2 linked regions of the Homo sapiens genome follow. The protein of the gene in region 2 interacts with the protein of the main gene of each other region in a pairwise test. Each region holds a gene or a part of one and is shown on either strand. Other genes may lie near its edges.

Evidence for each region.
Region 1: the proteins of PRR23B (region 2) and IGFN1 interact in binary tests that used the Homo sapiens proteins (3 or more experiments, as listed by UniProt).

The regions. Positions count from the first base shown.
Region 1 is NC_000001.11:201,192,279-201,202,444, forward strand, and holds part of IGFN1 (immunoglobulin-like and fibronectin type III domain-containing protein 1), read left to right. Parts: intron 1-968; 5' UTR 969-1,015; coding exon 1,016-1,022; intron 1,023-1,875; coding exon 1,876-1,995; intron 1,996-3,560; coding exon 3,561-3,700; intron 3,701-4,939; coding exon 4,940-5,039; intron 5,040-7,055; coding exon 7,056-7,100; intron 7,101-7,330; coding exon 7,331-7,376; intron 7,377-7,958; coding exon 7,959-8,133; intron 8,134-9,440; coding exon 9,441-9,554; intron 9,555-10,166.
Region 2 is NC_000003.12:139,016,667-139,026,827, forward strand, and holds PRR23B (proline-rich protein 23B), read right to left. Parts: upstream 4,261-10,161; 5' UTR 3,996-4,260; coding exon 3,198-3,995; 3' UTR 2,365-3,197; downstream 1-2,364.

The sequences.
Region 1 (10,166 bases), on a different chromosome or scaffold from region 2:
TATTAATGATAAGGCTCTTTGGGCAGAAAATGGAGTCCCCAAAATGGAACCGCTTGGCCATGGGCCAATCGCACAGAGGGTGGGACTGCTGGAAGATTCTTTCAAGACATCCCCCCTCCCTGATTTATGGCTCTCATCCCACCCCAGACCCAACCCCCTTCCTCTCCTGTGTGGGACTCCCCATTGGCCATAACAGATGGATGCAATTAAGAGGAAATCAGGAGAGATGGTGGTGGTGAGAGAATGGAAAATACTCCTATTCACCTGACACTATAATTCACTGGCTTCTGAGGGGAGCAGATGGATTTATGGGGATCCTACAGGCCTGGGCCAAGAAGAGCTTAAGAGCAGCAAATTTGAGGCCTCTCCCCTGCAGACCTTGTGACTGGAAGGATTCTAGATTGGTGGAGCGTGGGAAGTAGAGGGCTTCAGTGTCCTGCCAGAAAATCTCAGAGTTGGGGGAAGAGCCAGGAGGCCCAAAGAATGTCCTTGGAGAATTCCCATTCCAAAGCCAATGGGGCAAGCTGAAAGGAGCCTGAATCCTTTCACAGCTGAAATCCTTTCACAGCTGAATCCTTACACAGCTGAAAGGATCCTGAATGGGTCTGATTTCCTCAGGTTTGGGAGGGTTGTGTCTCATGTTCTGGGCAGGGTAATCAGGTCTGGGGTCCCACCAGGAGGCCAGGCCACCAGCACAGTGTGCAGGCTCAGCTTATGGTTCCCTTTACCTGGGAATGTTACCAACTGGGTAGCATGCTACCCACTCCCTGGTCTCTGGGAAATTGGTTTTGCTGGGGACAGGGAATTGCAGGAAACTAATCAGTGCCATTAGTGGGTTAGAAAAGCTCTTGGGGGCAGCAGCTTTTTCCAGCTCCCACCCCAGACATTGGCTGATGCACTGATGGTGTGGGAGGGGTGGGGTGAGACCAGCCTGGATTTCTCAAAAGCAATTCCATTTCTGTTCTCAGGGTAATAGAACTTCTACCCTCAGAGGAGTCAAAGAGGAGGCAGAACTATGGCAGGTAAGAGAAGAACTAATCTCCCCTCCCCAGCCCTCCCTGGCGATCCTTACCAGGACAGAGAGGAGAGAAGTGGTAGGGATCAGAGATTTCTGGGAACTTGCCCATCTTGTTGTTGTTTTTTTTCTCCTTATTTTATTTTATTTTATTTTTATTGTTGTTGGCTTTTTTTGAGACAGAATCTCACTCTGTTGCCCAGGCTGGAGTACAGTGACGCGATCTCAGCTCACTGCAACCTCCACCTCCCAGGTTCAAGTGATTCTCCCACCTCAGCCTCCTGAGTAGCTAGGATTACAGGTGCCTGCCACCATGCCTGGCTAATTTTTGTATTTTTAGTAAAGGTGGGGTTTCACCATGTTGGTCAGGCTGGTCTCGAATGCCTGACCTCAGGTGATCTGCCCACCTCGGCCTCCGAAAGTGCTGGGATTACTGGCGTAAGCCACCGTGCTTGGCTTTTTTTTTGAGTCTTGGCTTTGGGTTTTGATTTGTTTTCCTGAGTAAGGAGTGCAAAGCCCCCACACGAGCTCCTGCTTCTTGGCTTCCTGAGAAGGAGCCCTTTCTCACTCTTTCTTCCCAGCTTTTCCCCAGTGACACACTCAGGGTCTTCCTAGGGTGCCCCACCCACTTCCTAGAGGCTCCATTCACACTGCCAGAGTGTGTGCCACCAGATTCCCACTAGAGAATTCAAAAGCACTGTGCACAGGCAGGAGGTACTACAAATAATCCTGACCCAAAAGTAGGAGCGAGAAGGGGCTTCTTGCTCCTGGGGTGAGTGGGTGGATGCCCATTCTGTTGAAGGGCCACCCAGGAGGAAGAAGGTGGAAGGCCCCATCTCCTTCCCTCCTGCATTCTCCAGGAAAGCTCCGGAAGTCCCACATCCCTGGAGTGAGCATCTGGCAGCTGGTGGAGGAGATCCCTGAAGGCTGCAGCACGCCGGACTTTGAGCAGAAGCCCGTCACCTCGGCTCTGCCAGAGGGTGAGCCCAGAGGGGAGCTGCGGAGGGGAGGCAAGATTCTTGCTCTCCTACCTCCCAGGGGAGAGGGCTGGGGCACCAACCTTCCTGGGGACCCAGGCCCTATATCCATCACTAGGCCATAGCCCATCTCCCTCCTATCCTTGAGGGGGTATGTGCTTACCTGGAACCCTAGAAGTGACAAGAGGCCTGGGGAAAAGAGTGGATAAAGAGAGTGAAGAGACACCATGCTATTCTGGTGTGAGAAATATCTGGGGGGCAGGGATGGAAAAATGCTAAACTGGGGAGCAGGGAGAGGTTGTGGTGTTTCCTGGTCCCTGTCTCCTCACCTCAAAGCCACTGCTGCAGAGAGGCACTGTTAAAACAGTTAATTTGACTCTTCCCAATCCTCGCCTCCAGGCAGCAGCACCTGCTGTGGCTCACAGGCTGGGCTCAGGAAGGCCCTTCTAGAAGGCCACATAAGAAGGTGTCCAAGAAAGTGGTGGGAACAAAGGCTTATTGGGGAAAAAGTGGGAATTGGTGTTCTTTCCCCAACACACACCCTGCAATAAATTTTAGTTCATAGCATCCTGGTAATAAGAAAAAGAATGGTATTTTATTTTTCTAAATCTGGAACAAGGTAATGAGAAATTGGGAAGGGCCCTTGGGCCTTTGGTCTATATTGCTGTCTACTGAGATGTTCCTGGTGGGAGGCTGAGGGATTCCTTGAGGGCGGGCAGTTCCCAGGCCTCCATGACAGGCATGGAGCATGGGGTCTTTTCTGAGGCTGAAGCCTGTGTCTCAGCACCGGATCCTTCGGGCACCAAATAGTCACTCCTTCTCCTAGTTGTGATTCCTCCTCCCCCTAGAGAGTAGGAAGGGAAGCCAGAAAATCTCTTCTTTTTTTTTTTTCTTTTTTTGAGATGGAGTCTCGCTCTGTTGCCCAGGCTGGAGTGCAGTGGCGCAATCTCTGATCACTACAACATCTGCCTCTGGGGTTCAAGTGATTCTCCTGCCTCAGCCTCCCAAGTAGCTGGGATTACAGGCACATGCCACCAAGCCTGGCTACTTTTTGTATTTTTAATAGAGATGGGGTTTCACCATGTTGGCCAGGCTGGTCTCGAACTCCTGATCTCAGGTGATACGACTGCCTTGGCCTCCCAAAGTGCTGGGATTACATGCGTGAGCCCCTGCGCCTGCCCGGAACTCACAAAATCTCATTCCCTTCCTAGTCTTGGCAGAGCCTTCAGACTCCTTGCTCACCCACTCTCAAAGAAAAGCCCCTGTCCCCTAAAGCCCTGCTGGCCTCCCCTTTCACCAGGGCCAGTCCACCTGTCTCTTTCCCTCAAGCAGCCCAAGCTTCTGCAATATAGAAAGAGGAAGCACTGCCTTCTGGGTGCCTGGAATCTGCTGCTTTCCACCTGCGTATTCTGAGTCCTGAGTCAAGGGGACCAAGGCCTGGCATCCTTTTTGGAAGGGGCAGTTGAAATACCTAGATGAGGAAGACGATATAAATTAAAATTTAAATAAAGTATACAGTCACCCTCTCCCAACTTGTCAGTCTCCCTACTCGTCTCTTCCTGCTGCAGGGAAAAATGCTGTCTTTCGGGCTGTGGTCTGTGGGGAGCCCAGGCCCGAGGTGCGTTGGCAGAACTCCAAAGGTGACCTCAGTGATTCCAGCAAGTACAAGATCTCCTCCAGCCCTGGCAGCAAGGAGCACGTGCTGCAGGTAAGAACCGTAGCTCTTCCCCTGACCAGGGTCTACTCGTCTTTTCCCATCCCCTTGAAGGTCTCTTTGGCAGCCTCCAATCCCTAGAGGAGTAAGACATACTCCTCGTTGAGGTTGAATCCATTCAACTCCATCTCGTGACTCAAAGTTGCCTGAGCCAAGAATGGATCTGGCAGGCTTGCAGATACCTCTGCTGATAACCTGGGAGGTGGTGTAGACTGGAGCTTAAGAGCTCAAGCTCTGAAGTCAGACTGCTGGAGTTACAATCCCAGGCCCACCACCTTGGCTTTAGAAAGTCATTTTACTCTTTTTACCTCTGTCTCCTCATTTGTAAAAATGGGATAATAATAGTACCTACTTTAAGGAGTTGTTATGAGTTGTTGTTGAGATGGATCTCACTCTGTCGCCCAGGCTGGAGTGCAATGGCGTGATCTTGGTTCTCTGCAACCTCCACCTCCCAGGTTCAAGCGATTCTCCTGCTTCAGCCTCCCAAGTAGCTGAGATTACAGGCATGCGCCATCACGCCCGACTAATTTTTGTATTTTTAGTAGAGTTGGGGTTTCACCATGTTGGCCAGGCTAGTCTTGAACTCCTGACCAACAATGATCCATCCGCCTCGGCATCCCAAAGTGCTGGGATTACAGACATGAGCCACTGCGCCTGGCCAGGAGTTGTTATGAGGATGAAAGTTTTATGTAAAGTGTCTAGCTAGTGCCTGGCCTATAGTGAGTACTCAATCAATCTTGGCTAATCTGAGCAATATTATAAATACTAACCATGGGATACCTACTATGTGCCAGGCCCTACTATGTCCCAGGGGCTAAATATTTGACATAGATTATATATTTAATTCTAATTATTCACCACTTTTTTGAGGTATTATATTCCCATCTTACAAATGAAGAAACTGAAGTTGAGAGAAGTTAGGTAACTTGCCCAAGGTCCCACAGCTAGTAATACAGGACAGAGACTGTTTTCAGGCCCAGATCCATCTGACCCCAAAAAGCACACTCTTTCTACTTCGCTACATTGCCTCTGATGGCAAAGAATTGATACATCCACCCTCTGTCCCAAACCAGGTTTCTGTTTTGGGGTCTGTCTTTCCTGATAAAGACTGTGAGCTCCATGAGGACAAGGACCATGTCTTACTCACTTTATACCCCCAACACATAGCCGTGTCTAGTAAATGGAGGAAGGGGATGTGGTAGCCCTGTTCCTCTGCCCTTGGCCTCTCTGCAGATCAACAAGCTGACAGGCGAGGACACGGATCTGTACCGCTGCACAGCAGTAAATGCGTACGGAGAGGCCGCTTGCTCAGTGAGACTCACTGTCATCGAAGGTGGGCTTTTCCCTGAGTTTGTCTCATCAGTGCACAGGGCAGAGACCCACAGAGGAATCAGATGCCCCGTGGCTAGTGAGGGAGGGGAGGGGAGGGAAGGGAGGCCCATCCAGGCTGCTGCCGCTGCTGCAGCCCCACCTTGTGCTGGGCCCCGGGCTTCATCCACATGCACACTGAGTCTGCATGTGTTTAAAAAGGCACACCTTGGCAGATACTCTGAAGGATATTCTCTTGGCCCAGTAAATGAGCAGGACCTGAAAGCTGGCTTCTAGTCCTAGAGCTTCTGCTAACTCATTCAATGGGCTTCGTTTTCCTCTCTGGGTCTCAGTTTCTCCACCATGCAAAGGATATTTTGGACAGGCCTATGCCAGAGTTGACAAACAGGTCACACAAAGGCCAAATTCTCTCTCAGACATGTTTTTTTTGGTGTGCGTGGTGTTTGAAATTTTAAAAATTGTCAACCTGTAGTAATTAAAAGGTAGATATCTCTTGAGGAAGCAGGTCTAGTCTCGCCATTGGTTATGCTTACAATTGATCTGCCTGCAACTAACAGAAAATCCTACTAAGAGCAGCCTAAGAAATAACGATATTTCATTCCTTCACATAAGAAGTTTTGCGAGTGGCGTCCAGGGCTCATACCACAGCTCAGGGCTGCCATCGGAGAGCTGATTCCTTCGTTCCCACTGCTCTGCCATCCTTAGCAGATTGGCTTATCACCTCATGGCCATAAGAGGGCTGTGGCAGATTCAAACATAATCCATGTTCAAGGTAGGAAGGTGGAAGAGGTGGCCCAGGTCCATCTGCCTCTCTTATTTTTATTTTTATATTTTTGAGATGGACTGGAGTCTTGCTCCATCGCGTAGGCTGGAGTACAGTGGCACAATCTCACCTCACTGCAACATCTGCCTCCCGGGTTCAAGCAATTCTCCTGCCTCAGCCTCCTGAGTAGCTGGGATTACACGCGTTTACCACCATGCCTGGCTAATTTTTGTATTTTTAGTTGAGACAGGGTTTCACCACGTTGGCCAGGCTGGTCTCGAACTCCTGACCTCAGGTGATCCACCTGCCTCGGCCTCCCAAAGTGCTGGGATTACAGGCATGAGCCACTGTGCTTGGCCTTTTATTTTCTATTTTTTGAGACCTGTTGCCCAGGCTGGAGTGCAGTGGTGTGATTATGGCTCACTGCAGCCTTGACCTCCCAGGCCCAAGTGATCCTCCCACCTCAGCCTCCCAAGTAGCTGGGACTACATGCATGTGTCATCACACCCAGCTAATTTTTTTATTTTTTTTGTAGAGGCGGGGTCTCCCTGTGTTGCCCAGGCTGGTCTGGAACTCCTGGGCTCAAGCTATCCTCCCCCCTCGGCCTCCCAAAATGCTGGGATTACAGGCATGAACCATCACGACCAGTCCATCCACCCTTTTTATAGAGGAAGCAAAGGCTTTCTCAGAAATTCCTGGAGCTCATTGGTCAGGACAGTGTCACATGAGCACTGCTAGTTGCAAGGGAAGCTGGGGAAGGTGAGTGTTTAGCTTTTTCAGCCTCTCTAGTGGAAGCAGATGATGAAGAATACAAATGGCTGCAGGATTAGCCAAACAGCAATGTCTGACCTATTTGGCAATATTGGGCCTATACCCTGAAATGGCAGCTCCCAGGTGGAGTGAAAGAGCAGCTGCCCCTTTAGATACTCTTGAGTTTGTTGTGGTTGCCAGTGTCTGCTTCACGCATTTATGCCACCTCCCTGGCCCCTGCGGACACATGACTGGGCCTCCCCTGCATGAGATGATGCTTAGGTTGGTCCCCTTGGTCATGGTAAGGCTCTAGGGTAAAAAGGCTTATGATGGACAGACCCTCCACCCTGCTCCATCCCTCTTGCTGGGATCGTCCACGCCTTAGAGGACAGTGGGGAGAGCAGGGCTCTGGGACTCCATCAGTTTCTCAGGAAGACCATCAACATGTCTTGCTTCTCTCCCTGCTTGTCCACATCGACTCCTTCCTCTCCTCCCTGGATGTTGCAGTTGGCTTTCGGAAGAATCGGAAGAGGCACAGGGAACCGCAGGAAGGTAGGCAGATTTGTCAGAAACCTCCTTGGGGGCCTGTGGGGGATAGGCTACTCCTTTCCTGGTGTTCCCTGCCTGGTTGAGCTACCATGAACACCTTGTGGATCACCACCAGTCTTCAAGAGAGCCCCTTCCAAAGGCTCAGTTGTCAGCATGGACAACACAGAAAAGCTCTGCATCAACCCTCAGTCATCCCACCTGGGACTGAGGCCTCATTCCTGCTCCTTTTTCAGACCTCAGGAAGGAGCTGATGGACTTCCGGAAGTTGCTGAAAAAGAGGTGGGTTTGGGCCTGTCCATGAGGGATTTTGGAGGCTCCCATAGTATTCACCCCCTGCTATTTCCATAAGTAAGCTGGGCTTGAGCCCCACCTCTACCCAACACAGCAGGGAGCTAGACTGCCAGTAGCAGATGGGAGGATGGGAAGGGGACTGAACTGGATGGGAATGGGACAGAGCTCCAGCTCTGCCATTTCAAAGCTCTATATCCTTGAGTTAATCATCTCTCCTCTGATTTCCTCATTTGCAAAATGTGGTGGTCCACCAGAACAATGATGTACTTTTTTTTTTTAAGCAACAGAACAATGCAACACCCACTTTCCCCAGACATCCTACTTAGAAATCTACAATACAAGTTGTCAGGAGCATTTCTCCTGAAAGTTGTGGGGTGAGGCTGAGGCTCGCCCCACCCATCTCTGAATCCTTCTGGCCTCAACAGTGGTCAGTCCCAGAGATTCCAGGCTCTGCGTTTCCTCGAGTGCAGATAGAGCAGCTTCCCAGAACTACTTGGGACACCAGAGCCAGGTGGCCAACAGAGGAGCAGGGATTCCTCTGGCCTCTGACCTGCTAGCCTTGCTCCCCAGGGCCCCACCAGCCCCCAAGAAAAAGATGGACCTTGAGCAGATATGGCAGCTGCTGATGACAGCAGACAGGAAGGACTACGAGAAGATCTGCTTGAAGTATGGCATCGTCGACTACCGTGGCATGTTGCGCAGGCTGCAGGAGATGAAGAAGGAACAGGAGGACAAGATGGCACAGGTGCCTCACCCCATTCCCACCCCTCACTCCATGCCCACCCCACACACCTGGACCATAGGTGCCTCACACCTGGAGGTGGGCTTGGAGGCAGAACTTAGGAAACCAAGTATGATCAAGGGGCCTGTCTCCATCTAGTCCCCAGTGGGGTATCTGGCTAAGGCCCTGGGATCCCAGGTTGGTGTCCTGCCTTTGCAACCTGGTTCTGATACTTACTAAACTCTGGAGCTTTGGAAGGGTTAGGGCCTCTGTATCTTGGTGTCTTCATCTGTAAAATGGGAATTATAGTCATGCCTACCTTGTAGGGTTATTGGGAGGATAAATGAGAGAATGTAATTAAAGTACTTAGCTTAGTGCCTTGATTTTTGCTATCATTATCATTGTCACCAGATTGCGGGGGGGAGGTACCTGGTTTATTTCTTTCTTTTTTTTTTTTTTTTTAAGATGGAGTCTTGCTCTTTCGCCCAGGCTGGAGTGCTGTGGCCGGATCTTGGCTCACTGCAAGCTCCGCCTCCCAGGTTCACGCCATTCTCCTGCCTCAGCCTCCTGAGTAGCTGGGACTACAGGTGCCTGCCACCACACCCAGCTAACTTTTTGTATTTTTAGTAGAGACGGGGTTTCACCGTGTTAGCCAGGATGATCTCGATCTCCTGACCTCGTGATCCGCCTGCCTCGGCCTCCCAAAGTGCTGGGATTACAGGCGTGAGCCACCGCACCTGGCTACCTGGTTTACTTCTAAAGGCTTTCATGGAAGGGAATTTCACAGTTCCCATTAGCACTCTGATCCCAGAATCTTATCAGCTGTACAGGAATTTCTTTCCTGTGTCTAACTTAACTATAGCATAAGTCTAATTTTTCTTCTGAAAATGGAAAACAACTAGTTTTTATTATCCTGAAAATAGTATCTTATCCCCTTGAAAGATAAGCTTCCTTAAACCTAACACCTAGGGTCTCAGCCTTCTCTCCTCCAAGCTTTCTCATTGGCTTTAACACGGGACCTAGCACAGAGCTTTGCACACGGTAGGTGTTCAACTAATGTTCGTTAGAAGTACAGATAGATGGAAAAGCCCCACTGTGTTCTAGCAACTGAACACCTGGGGTCTTTTCTTGGTTGTCTTCCTGATCTGATCTCTCATCTTGGAGAATTTCCTTCCTTGAGGGGCTTACTTTCCCCCACTTGTAAAAGGGGCCAATGCATGCTCATCTGGAACGCTGTGGGCCTGGGATGGTACCAGAGCCTATGAGGGTTCAGAGTACCCCGAAGAGAGAGCTTCATGAGCTCTCCTGCTGGGTGTTTGTCTGCTTTGTAGTACATCAACACCATCTCCAGCTTAAGACACATCAGGGTCACCAAGGATGGGAATGCAAAGTTTGACTTGGAGCTGGATCTCAAGGATTCTCAGAGCAAGATTTACCTGTATAAGGTGAGGCTGGAGGGGCTATGGGTGGGGGGGATCTGGCAGGGATGCTTCAGGTCTAGTGGAGAGGGAACTATGGGTACCCTGCATTCCTCCAAGGGAACAACCAGAGCACACAAGTGGTGAGCCCCTCATCCCATGGAGTTCCTGGCTGGACCTGGACCAAACCCTGGTGTAGACCATCCATCCACAGGGACTTCTTATCTCACACTGAGCAACTGGGCTCTCCAGCTGGGCCTGTGATTCTCTGTAAATTGTGTCTAACACCAGAGCACGGGGGTGAAAAGAGGGTTCTGAGAAAGTGCACCCCTTTCCATCTGAGCTTTCTCTCCAGAGACTTCATACATCCCTACCTGGGCTCTAGGAGTAATTATCTGCCAACCAGATGGGGGCAGAGGCAGGTGGGGAGCAGTTGGTAAAATTTGGCTAGTTCTGTAGCCAAACTCATCCAGCTTCATCACTTATAAGCTGTATGACCTCAGACAAGATACTTATCTTCCCCATGCCTCGGCTTCCTCACTTGTGAACTGGGGATAATATAGGACCTGTCTCATGGTGTACTGCAGCGCTAAATGACATCATGTGTGACTTGCCCCTCCCCTCACCTCTCTGCTTATT
Region 2 (10,161 bases):
GCAGAGAGCATTGCTAGGAAATATTAAACCGTATTACCTACAGATACCTACTTTCAAAAGAAAGATACAAGCTTCCAGGGATCAGAAATGGAGTAGAAAACCCAATCTCTGACTGAGTAGCTGATATTTTGATGACTCATGGTACTGGGACTAAACTATATAATGGCAACTGGGATTTCTGCTCCTTTGAGGGGGCTAAAATTTGGCTCACTGCCAATGTTCAAAGGTTGAAGAGGCACTAACCACTGTTGCATGGTTGTGCCTGTAGTTGATCAAGGAAAGACAAACTGAAACTTGGAATGAGCGTCTGTGTAATTGATTACACCTGTGACTTTCCAGAAAGACAAGTTACAAGAGTTCCAAAGCCCCAATTCTGAATGGTGGTCCTGGGAAGACTAGGAAGTGGAAACTATAAAAATTATAAATATGGGATTCAGAAGATGAATTCCCACCCACAGTGTGCCCACTAATGAAAATTACTAAGCACGAGGCAATCTAATGTGATTAAAAACAAATAATGAGAGATTTTACCTGTGGGGAAATTGAATCAATTTAGCTATTAAAGTTAAAAAATTTTCAAAACATAAATGATGGAATACCTTCCATGAACAAACTAGAAGTTTGTGATACCAAGTGGGAAGTTTTGAAGCAAAAATCTTGAGAAATCCTGAAAAAAAAATTCTTTGAAATGAAAACTTTCTTATAGAACTATAAACAGAATAACAAAAAACAAAACAAAACAAACAGAATATTGTAAGCAGTCAACCAGAGTAGTTAATTGGATTAAAGAATAAAGGAAGTTGGGGCCGGGCGTGGTGGCTCACTTTTGGAGGCCGAGGTGGGTGGATCACTTGAGGTCAGGAGTTCAAGACCAGCCTGGCCAACATGGTGAAACCCCATCTCTACCAAAAATACAAAAAATAGCTGGGTGTGATGGCAAGCATCTGTAATCCCAGCTTCTTGGAAGGCTGAGGCAGGAGAATCGTTTGAACTCAGGAGGCAGAGGTTGCAGCGAGCCAAGATCGGGCCACTGTACTCCAGCCTGGGTGACAAAGCGAGACTTCATCTCAAAAAAAAAAAAAAATACAGGAAGTTCGATTTGATAAGGTGTACATACACTCACAAACATACATGTATATTAAGATATCAAGATGTTATGAGCCAGGGGAGATTGATTGAGCAGTGCCATTATATATCTGATTGGATTTCTTCTTTTCTTTCTTTCTTTCTTTTTTTCTTTTTTTTTGGACAGAGTCCTGTTCTGTTGCCCAGGCTGGAGTACAGTGGCACAATCTCAGCTAACTGCAACCTTCGCCTCCTGAGTTCAAGCGATTCTCCCGCCTCAGCCTCCTAAGTAGCTGGGATTACAGGTGTGTGCCACCACGCCCAGCTAATTTTTGTATTTTTGGTAGAGACGGGGTTTCTCCATGTTGGCCAGGCTGGTCTTGAACTCCTGACCTCGGGTGATCCACCCACCTCAGCCTCCCATCTGATTGGATTTCATGGGGATATAGGCAATATTCCAAGAGATGAAACTTAAGATTTTGTGGTATTTCAGGCAAGAAATAGTTTCCAATATTGATAGTTAACTAAATTCTATCAAGCTAAATGAAAATATAGTCTACCCCTAGACACATTACAGTAAACTGTAGAACACCAAAGGCAAATCAACATTTTAAAAAATATACTAAAATTGGCCAGATGTGGTGGATCACACCTGTAATCCCAGCACTTTGGGAGGTCAAAGTGGGTGGATCACTTGAGCCCAGGAGATCCAGACTAGCGTGGGCAACATGGTGAAACCCCGTTCCTACAAAAAATACACTTGAGCCTGGGATGTTGAAGCTTCAGTGAGCCGTGATTGCACCACTGCACTCCAGCTTGGGCGACAGAGTGAACCCTGTCTTAAAGTCTTTCTCTCTCTACACACACACGCACACACACACACACACACACACACACACGAACAGCCAAATTACATATAAAAGGACTAACAACTTGATTGACAGAAGACATCCTGCAACAACAAAAAATGGCAAAACAACGGGCTAATATCTTTAAAGTACTGTAGTTAAATATCATTTTAAAATTAAGAATGAAGGTGTAATTAAAACATTTACAGTCAATTCTAAGAAAGTTTATCACACAAAAACATGCTCAGACTTACAGAAGCAAGATAGTTTATCACACGTAAGACACAGTGGAAAGAAATATTAAAGGATATTCTTCACAAAAAGAAAACTGAAGCTACAGTGAAGGAGTGGAATGTAAGAATAAAAATGTAGGAAATAATTGGTAAGGCATAGTGGTAGATCTGAATAGTTATTGATGTTTTTAAATAAAATAAAACCAGCTTGTTGACATCAGCTTTACCAGTAATCTTTTATCTCCTATATAAAAATATGAGGCAACTACAGTAATAAACTAACATTTTAAAAGTTAGAAGTTTGGTTTACATGAGAAAAAACTCAGGGTAGATTTTAAAAGGTATAAAATAATGTGGAATAGCAGGAATGCAAACACTTTCCATTGGGTGAAATCACCAGATTAACAAATTAAAAAAAAATACATAACACAATGCATGCTGAAAACATCTGATAAAATTCAACACAAATTTTCATTTAGAATTAGAAGACTAGAAGAAAACTTCAGCAGGATAAGGGGTTCCTAGGAAGAAGCAACATACAGTCTTGTATAGTAAGCATACTATTTGGCAGTTTCCTTGGAGAGCAGTTGGAAAAACCCCAAGAAAAGCCATGGCTAAGTCTTCCAAAATTCATGGGAAAAAAATGCAAGGTAACTAACAACGTAAGAGATCTGGTGATTTCTTGGTTTGGGGAGAAACGGGAGTGGCAGTATGATGCTGGAGAAAGACTGGAATTTGAGAGAAACAACTGATGCAAAACGAGGGAGAATGAAGGGATCTGAATATGACCTTGTAAAGAAGCCCAGAAATCTGGACACATTTTCTGGTATCCTTGCGCAGATTTTCTATTTAAAGATGAGGTCTAGAATATACCTTTTCTTGCTGACGTCTTCATCTCCTACTATCGGTAGTGTGCAGCGAAAAAGCAATTGTCCGAACACGCGGTGCCCAATTTCCAGGTTGTTGGATACTCAATGTGAGAGATTCCCGCAATCCTAGAGGGCCTCCAGCAGAGCGGCCAGGATTGTTGTGTGTACGTGGGGGTGGGGGTCTATGCCTGGAACAGGCGTCTCCGGGCCTTGCACGGAGGGCGTTCCGGGAGCGGCGAGCGCGCGTGGGGACCTGGACTCCCCACGCACGGAGAGGGAGGTAGAGGTTGGAGAGGTGAGCTGGGGACAGGCTCCAGAAGGCGGAATTCCAGGTCAAAGATGGGGCGTGGAGAACGTCTCTCTGAACTGGGGTTGGGGGCCAGAGCACAGGGTTCTGGGATGGGGCCCTCCCGGTAGGGGATGAACATACTTCTAGAGGAGGGGTAGAGCCCAGCGGCTGAGCCGGTTGGGGAGTCCATCCGGAGCTCCGGGAACTCGGGGTCCGCGTCCTCCTCGTAGGCCTCTTCCTGGGCGGCGATCTCTGGGACAGATGCGCAGAATTCCAGCTCGACGACGACGTCCTCCCTGACAGCGCCCAGGAAAACGTCCACTTCCAGCCCGGCAGACGAGTCGTGCTGCGCTCCTGAGCGTTCGTCGACGGAGCTCAGGAGGACCTCTGGGATCAGGATGAGGGTGTGTCCACCGAGAGACACTCGCAGGATCGACGTTGGTGCGGGCTCCAGCACCAGGTCGACGTCGTCCAGGGGCACACGCAGGGCACAGCCCGCGGCCAGGACCACTATGGAGGTGAGCGCGTCCACGGCCGGGTCCCCCGCCGGGTCTTCCAGGCTGGGTGCCGCGCGGGGTTCGGGGCCCGCGGGCTCCTCCAATCGGAGGCGCTTGGCAGGGCCGGGTCCTCCTGGCTGCTGTCCCCACCAGGGAGCAGGGAAGGCGCTGGGGCTGCGGGGCCGGCTGACCATCGCCTCGACGGCGCTGTGGACGGCGCTCCTGGGCCTAGCAGCGGACGTGGGGAGCGCGGCGGTGAAGTCCTCTTTGAAGTAACAGATGTCGGTGGTAGGGGAGGCTGGTTGGGACGAGCGGGGCGCAGGACCGCGCGACGCGGGGCGAGTCCTCGGAGCTCCCGGGGCGCCTCCTGGGGGACCGTAGTCTGGGCTGCTGGTGGTGCCTCGCCGGCCACCGGGCTCAGCTTAGCTCGTTGGACCCTTGGGCCTTCCTGATGCAGACCCGGATGCGCACTGCAAAGCCAATTATGTTGTAAATGACGGCAGCGGAACCGAAGTCGCAAAATGTCACGCAATGCTCCGCCCCCTGGAGGACCCGCTCTAGAGGCGGAGGTATCCGTGCTGTCCAGTATCCGTGGCTATAATTGGTCGGACACGCTGGGGAAATACTCTTACAGGCCTCTAGGGGGCAGAATGATCAGTATAACTTATTCAGAAAAAATGATAACAACTGTAATAGAATTTCAAAGATGGCTCGCCTTTAGAACTCATGTTTTCTTGTGATTTCAGGGATTCTAGAGAAAAGACCACTCAGATCTCTCCGACCCATCCAAATGCTACATACAATTCCTTTAATGCTACTAAATTATTTCATTTTAGGAGTATTCAGAAAATACAGATTTCTACTTGGGAAAATTGATTTTAAAATTCTGAGTGAAGCTGGGAGTGGTGGCTCACGCTTGTAATCCCAGCACTTTGGGAGGCTGAGGAAGGCTGATCGCTTGAGCCCAGGAGTTCAAGACCACTCTGGGCAACATGGTGAGACTCGGTCCCTATGAAAAATTTAAAAATTCAAAAATTAGCCTGGCGTGGTGGTGCGTACCTGTGGTCCCAGCTATTTGGGAGGCTGAGATGGCAAGATCGATGGAGCCCGGGAGGTCAAAGCTGGAGTGAACCGTGGTGGTGCCACTGCACTCCAGCCTGGGCAACAGAGTGAGACCCTGTCTAAAAAAAAAAAAAAAAAAAGTGAAACATTTGTGAATAGTTTCATCCTGAAAGTTAAAAAGTTATAAAATTATTAATCATATTAAAATTTAAAACAATATTAATAAAATTATTTTTTTTTCTTTTTTTTTTTTTTTTTGAGACAGAGTCTCGCTCTGTCGCCCAGGCTGGAGTGCAGTGGCGCGATCTCGGCTCACTGCAAGCTCCACCTCCTGAGTTCACGCCATTCTCCTGCCTCAGCCTCCCGAATAGCTGGGACTACAGGCGCCCACCACCGCGCCCGGCTAATTTTTTTTGTATTTTTAGTAGAGACGGGGTTTCACCGTGTTAGCCAGGATGGTCTCGATCTCCTGACCGCGTGATCTGCCCGCCTCAGCCTCCCAAAGTGCTGGGATTACAGGCGTGAGCTACCGCGCCTGGCCGTATAAAATTAATTTTTAAATTGAACACTTATATTTCCATGATTCTTGAATTTTTTTTTTTTTTTTGACAGAGTCTGACTCTGTCTCCCAGGCTGGAGTGCAGTGGTGCAATCTCAGCTCACTGCAGTCTTGGCCTCCCAGGCTCTGGTGATCCTCCCACCTCAGCCTCCGGAGTAGCTGGGACTACAGGCCTGTGCCACCATACTGGCTATTTTTTTTTGTATTTTTAGTAGAGGCAGGGTTTTGCCATGTTGCCTAGGCTGGTCTTGAACTCTTGGGCTCAAGCGATCCTCCCTCATCGGCCTCTCAAAGTGCTGGGATTACAGGTGTGAGTCACTGCATCTGACCTGAGCTTTTTTTTTTGAGACGGAGTCTCACTCTGTCGCCTAGGTTTGAGTTAAGTGGCACGATCTTGGCTCACTGCAACTTCCGCCTCCCGGGTTCAAGCCATTATCCTGCCTCAGCCTCCCGAGTAGCTGGCAGTACAGGCACTTGCCACCACGCCTGGCTAATTTTTGTATTTTTAGTAGAGACGAGGTTTCATCATGTTGGCCAGTGTAGTGTCAAACTCCTGACCTCAAGTGATCCGCCTGCCTCGGCCTCCTAAAGTGCTGGGTGCTGCGGTTACACCGTGCCCAGCCCTGAGTTTTTTTTTTTTTTTTTTTTGAGACAAAGTCTTGCTCTTGTCCCCCAGGCTGGAGTGCAATGGCGCGATCTCAGCTCACTGCAACCTCCGCCTCCCGGGTTCAAGTGATTTTCCTGCCTCAGCCTCCCAAGTAGCTGGGATTACAGGGACTTACCACCATGCCCGTCTAATTTTTGTATTTTTAATAGAGAGGGGGTTTCACCTTGTTGGCCAGGCTGGTTTCGAACTCCTGACCTCAGGTGATCCACCCGCCTCGGCCTCCCAAAGTGCTGGGATTACAGGCGTGAGCCACCATGCCCTGCCAGTCCTGAGTATTTTAAAAACGATCTTCTTCATTCTTCACAACACCTGAGGCTCAGTGGTAAAGCAAATTTTTCTTAAAAAAATAATTAAAAAAATTTGTGTGGGTATATAGTAGAGGTATATATTTATAGGGTACATAAGATGTTTTGATACAGAAATGCAGTGTGAATAAGCACATTATAGAAAATGGGGTATCCATCTCCTCAAGCATTTATCCTTTGAGTTACAAACACACCAGTTACACTCTTTAAGTTATCAAATAGTAGGTCTTATTCATTCTTTGTGTTTTTTTTTTGTATGCATTAACCATCCTCACTTCCCTGGTAAAGCAAATTTTTCAAAATCAAATACCCAGGTTGTGTTGGATGTGGGAATCAAATGCACAGATATAGCTGGCTTTAAATCAAAGACTCTTTCCTGACACTTTTATGAGGAAAGTAGGAGTAGATCACTAATTGGTACTGTGTATGCCTTTCAAATTAACAGGTAATACCCCTTTCCCCATTCTTTTTTCAAAATGGCTTTCCCTGCTTACATTCACGTGAGCAGAGTATGTTTCCATTTCACTAAATCTTTGCAAGCATTTCTTATTGCCACATTCTTAAATCTTTTTCAAGCTATTGTAGTAAAATGCTATTTCATTTTGCATTTCTGATTACCAATAAAGTGAACCATTTTTCCTTTTTTTAAATTATACTTTAAGTTCTAGGGTACATGTGCACAACGTGCAGGTTTGTTACATATGTATACATGCGCCATGTTGGTGTGCTTCACCTATTAACTCGTCATTTACATTAGGTATATCTCCTAATGCTATCCCTCCCCTCTCCTCCCAGCCCTTGACGAGCTCCGGTGTGTGATGTTCCCCTTTCTGTGTCCAAGTGTTCTCATTGTTCAATTCCCACCTATGAGTGAGAACATGTGGTGTTTGGTTTTTCTTTCTTGCGATAGTTTGCTGAAAATGATGGTTTCCAGCTTCATCCATGTCCCTACAAAGGACATGAACTCATCCTTTTTTATGGCTAAAGTGAATCATTTTTTCATATGCTTATTTACTATTCTTGTATCTTCTTATTTGAAATGCTCCTATCTTCTATTTTTTTACTTTTAAAAAACTCAGGTTCACAATATTGTATACCAGTTATTCATCAGATATATGTGTAGCAAATATCTCTGTCATTCTCCCACAGTTTTTGAAGACATTAGCACCTGATTCACTATTATTCCCAGCCGATCTACTTCTGATGTAATTTGTGGTAATTTTAATGTTTTCATAGATTTTTCCCCCTGAAGTCCTAGCCTCTTAGTTCACAATTTTGTTCTGCCTCCTACCTCACTGACTCATACCCTTGACTTTGTTGTTACCCCAAGTTGTAATCCCTTTATAATCACAATTTCAACATTTTATTCTCACAGCACCACCTTCTAACTTTCTAATTCAGTTTTAAAAAATATCCAAATCTATCCATTTTTCATTCTCTCTGGAAAAATCCTTTTATCCTACCATCTTTTAATGGAAACTGATATCATCAGGTTCTCACTTCCCTCTTTACTGGGAACTTAAATTCCACGGACAGCCTTGATAATCATTGTCATATTTATATCTTCAACTTTCTTTCCTGTCTACTGCTTTGCTGGTTAAATCTATCTGCCTACTCAGTGCCCTTACTTGTATGGCTGAATGTGTCTGGAGAAAAACACTCAATCTCTTTGAATAGTCTCACTTTATAATCATGATCACCAACCTCCAGTGGGTTCCTAATGCTGCCAAGTGATCTTACTATATTGCTCTAGTCCATTCATTCTCTCACTCTTCCAGATGAATATTGCTTGCTTTCTCTTTTCTTCTCAAGCCTCCAATACCTAATCTCTTATTTTCACTTTTAAATGATCACCTTACTTTCTTTTCACTGAGACAATAGAAGCAATCTGAAGATATTTTTCAAAATTCCCATAATCACATCGGCCCATATAGTTGCATCGGGACTACATATTCTCTCTTCTTTCCTGTTCCCTTAGATAAATTGTTCATGGTCCTAGCAAAGGCCACCCCCTCCACTTGTGCAGTTGATTTAATCTCATCTTGCCTTCTCAAGAACATTACTTGAGTAATTCTGTCTCTGTCCTGGATCATCAAATTTTAGCTATCTCATCAAATTTTAACTACTGAATCAGTATCTTCAATATATAATTTGAGAGGAAACCTCTTCTGTGTTAAACAAAAACTCTTGACTTGACTTAAACTCCTCCAGTTTCTGCACCAACTTTCTCCTTATATACCCAAACTCTTGAGTTAGTCAACAATACTTACATTCCCCAATTTCCTTCCTCCCATGCTCTCTTGAGCCCATTCTAATCAGACTCCTGTCTGTGCCAGTCATCTATAAACCCTCTTACTAAGGTCACTAATGACCCCTATATTATTACATCCAATGGTTAATTCTCAGTCCTCATCTTGCAATCACTCTCTCCTTTAAACATTTACCCCCCTGGCATCCAAGATCTTTCACTCTCCCAGTCTGTCTTTGGCATCTTCTTATTTTTTCCCCTCATTCTGAAGGTTGGAATATCCCAGGAGCCAGTTCTTGGCCTTTTTTTTCCTGTCAACTTTCACTCTTTTATGTTAAACACCATCTGTATATTGGTGACTCTCAGATATGTGTGTCCCTCCTGTACCTCCCCTATGAACAAACAATTGCATTGTCAGTGTTTTCTCCTGAATATCTGTTAATTTGAAACACATGTAGTTTTCATTTTTATAGGTCAGAATAGTTGAATATTTCTCATTTTATATATTTCAACATAATAATAGGCGGTTCAAACGTTAGGTCCAAATTCGAGCTCTTCGTATTTCCCCAAACCCAATTATCTCCAAGTATTAACCATCACAGTAATCGGTAACTCCATCCTTCCTTTTGCTCAAACCAGAATTTTGGAATTAAGTGTCCTTTCCTTTGGAAAGGAGTGTCTTCCTTTCATGCTCCATAGCCATCCCATCAGGACGTCCTAGATCATGCCACTTCCTACCATCCCTCCAACTACCACCCTACTACCACTTTTATCTCTTGAGTAAATTACTGTAGAAGCCTCCTAAATGGTTTCTTTGCATCTCTCCTTTGTCTCTTTTCCAGCTAATCTCCATACAATAGCTAGAGTTGTTCTGTTAAACCATACGTAAATTATGCCACTCTGCTCAAACACCTCCAATTCCATTCAGGGTAAAAGCCAATGTTTTTATATGGGCCTATAGGTTGTGCTTGGATCTCTCACTCCTATTATCTGTCAGAGTTTATCTTCTATCACTCTGTCCTTTGCTCTCTGGTTTCTATGATTTTCCTAAAAATTGACAGGCATGCTTACAGATTTTGCAATTGTTCTTCTCCTGCCTAGAACACTTTACATCTCTCTGAGTGTTTCCTCACTTCCTTCAGACCATGTTGCCAGCAGCTCAATTTCTGAGGTTTCCCCAGAGCACACTATCTAAGATGGCAATCCCTGACCCTTCTAACTCCCCTCCCTACCTTAATTTAATCCTTAGCACTTATCAGTATTTAACATGTGGTGCATTTTATTCATTTATCTTATTTAATTTAATTTAATTAATTTATTTATTTTTATTATACTTTTAAGTTCTAGGATACATGTGCACAATGTGCAGGTTTGTTACATCTGTATACATGTGCCATGTTGGTGTGCTGCACCCATTAACTCCTCATTTACATGAGATATATCTCCTAATGCTTTCCCTCCCCCCTCCCCCCACTCCACAACAGGCCCCGGTGTGTGATGTTCCCCTTCCTGTGTCCAA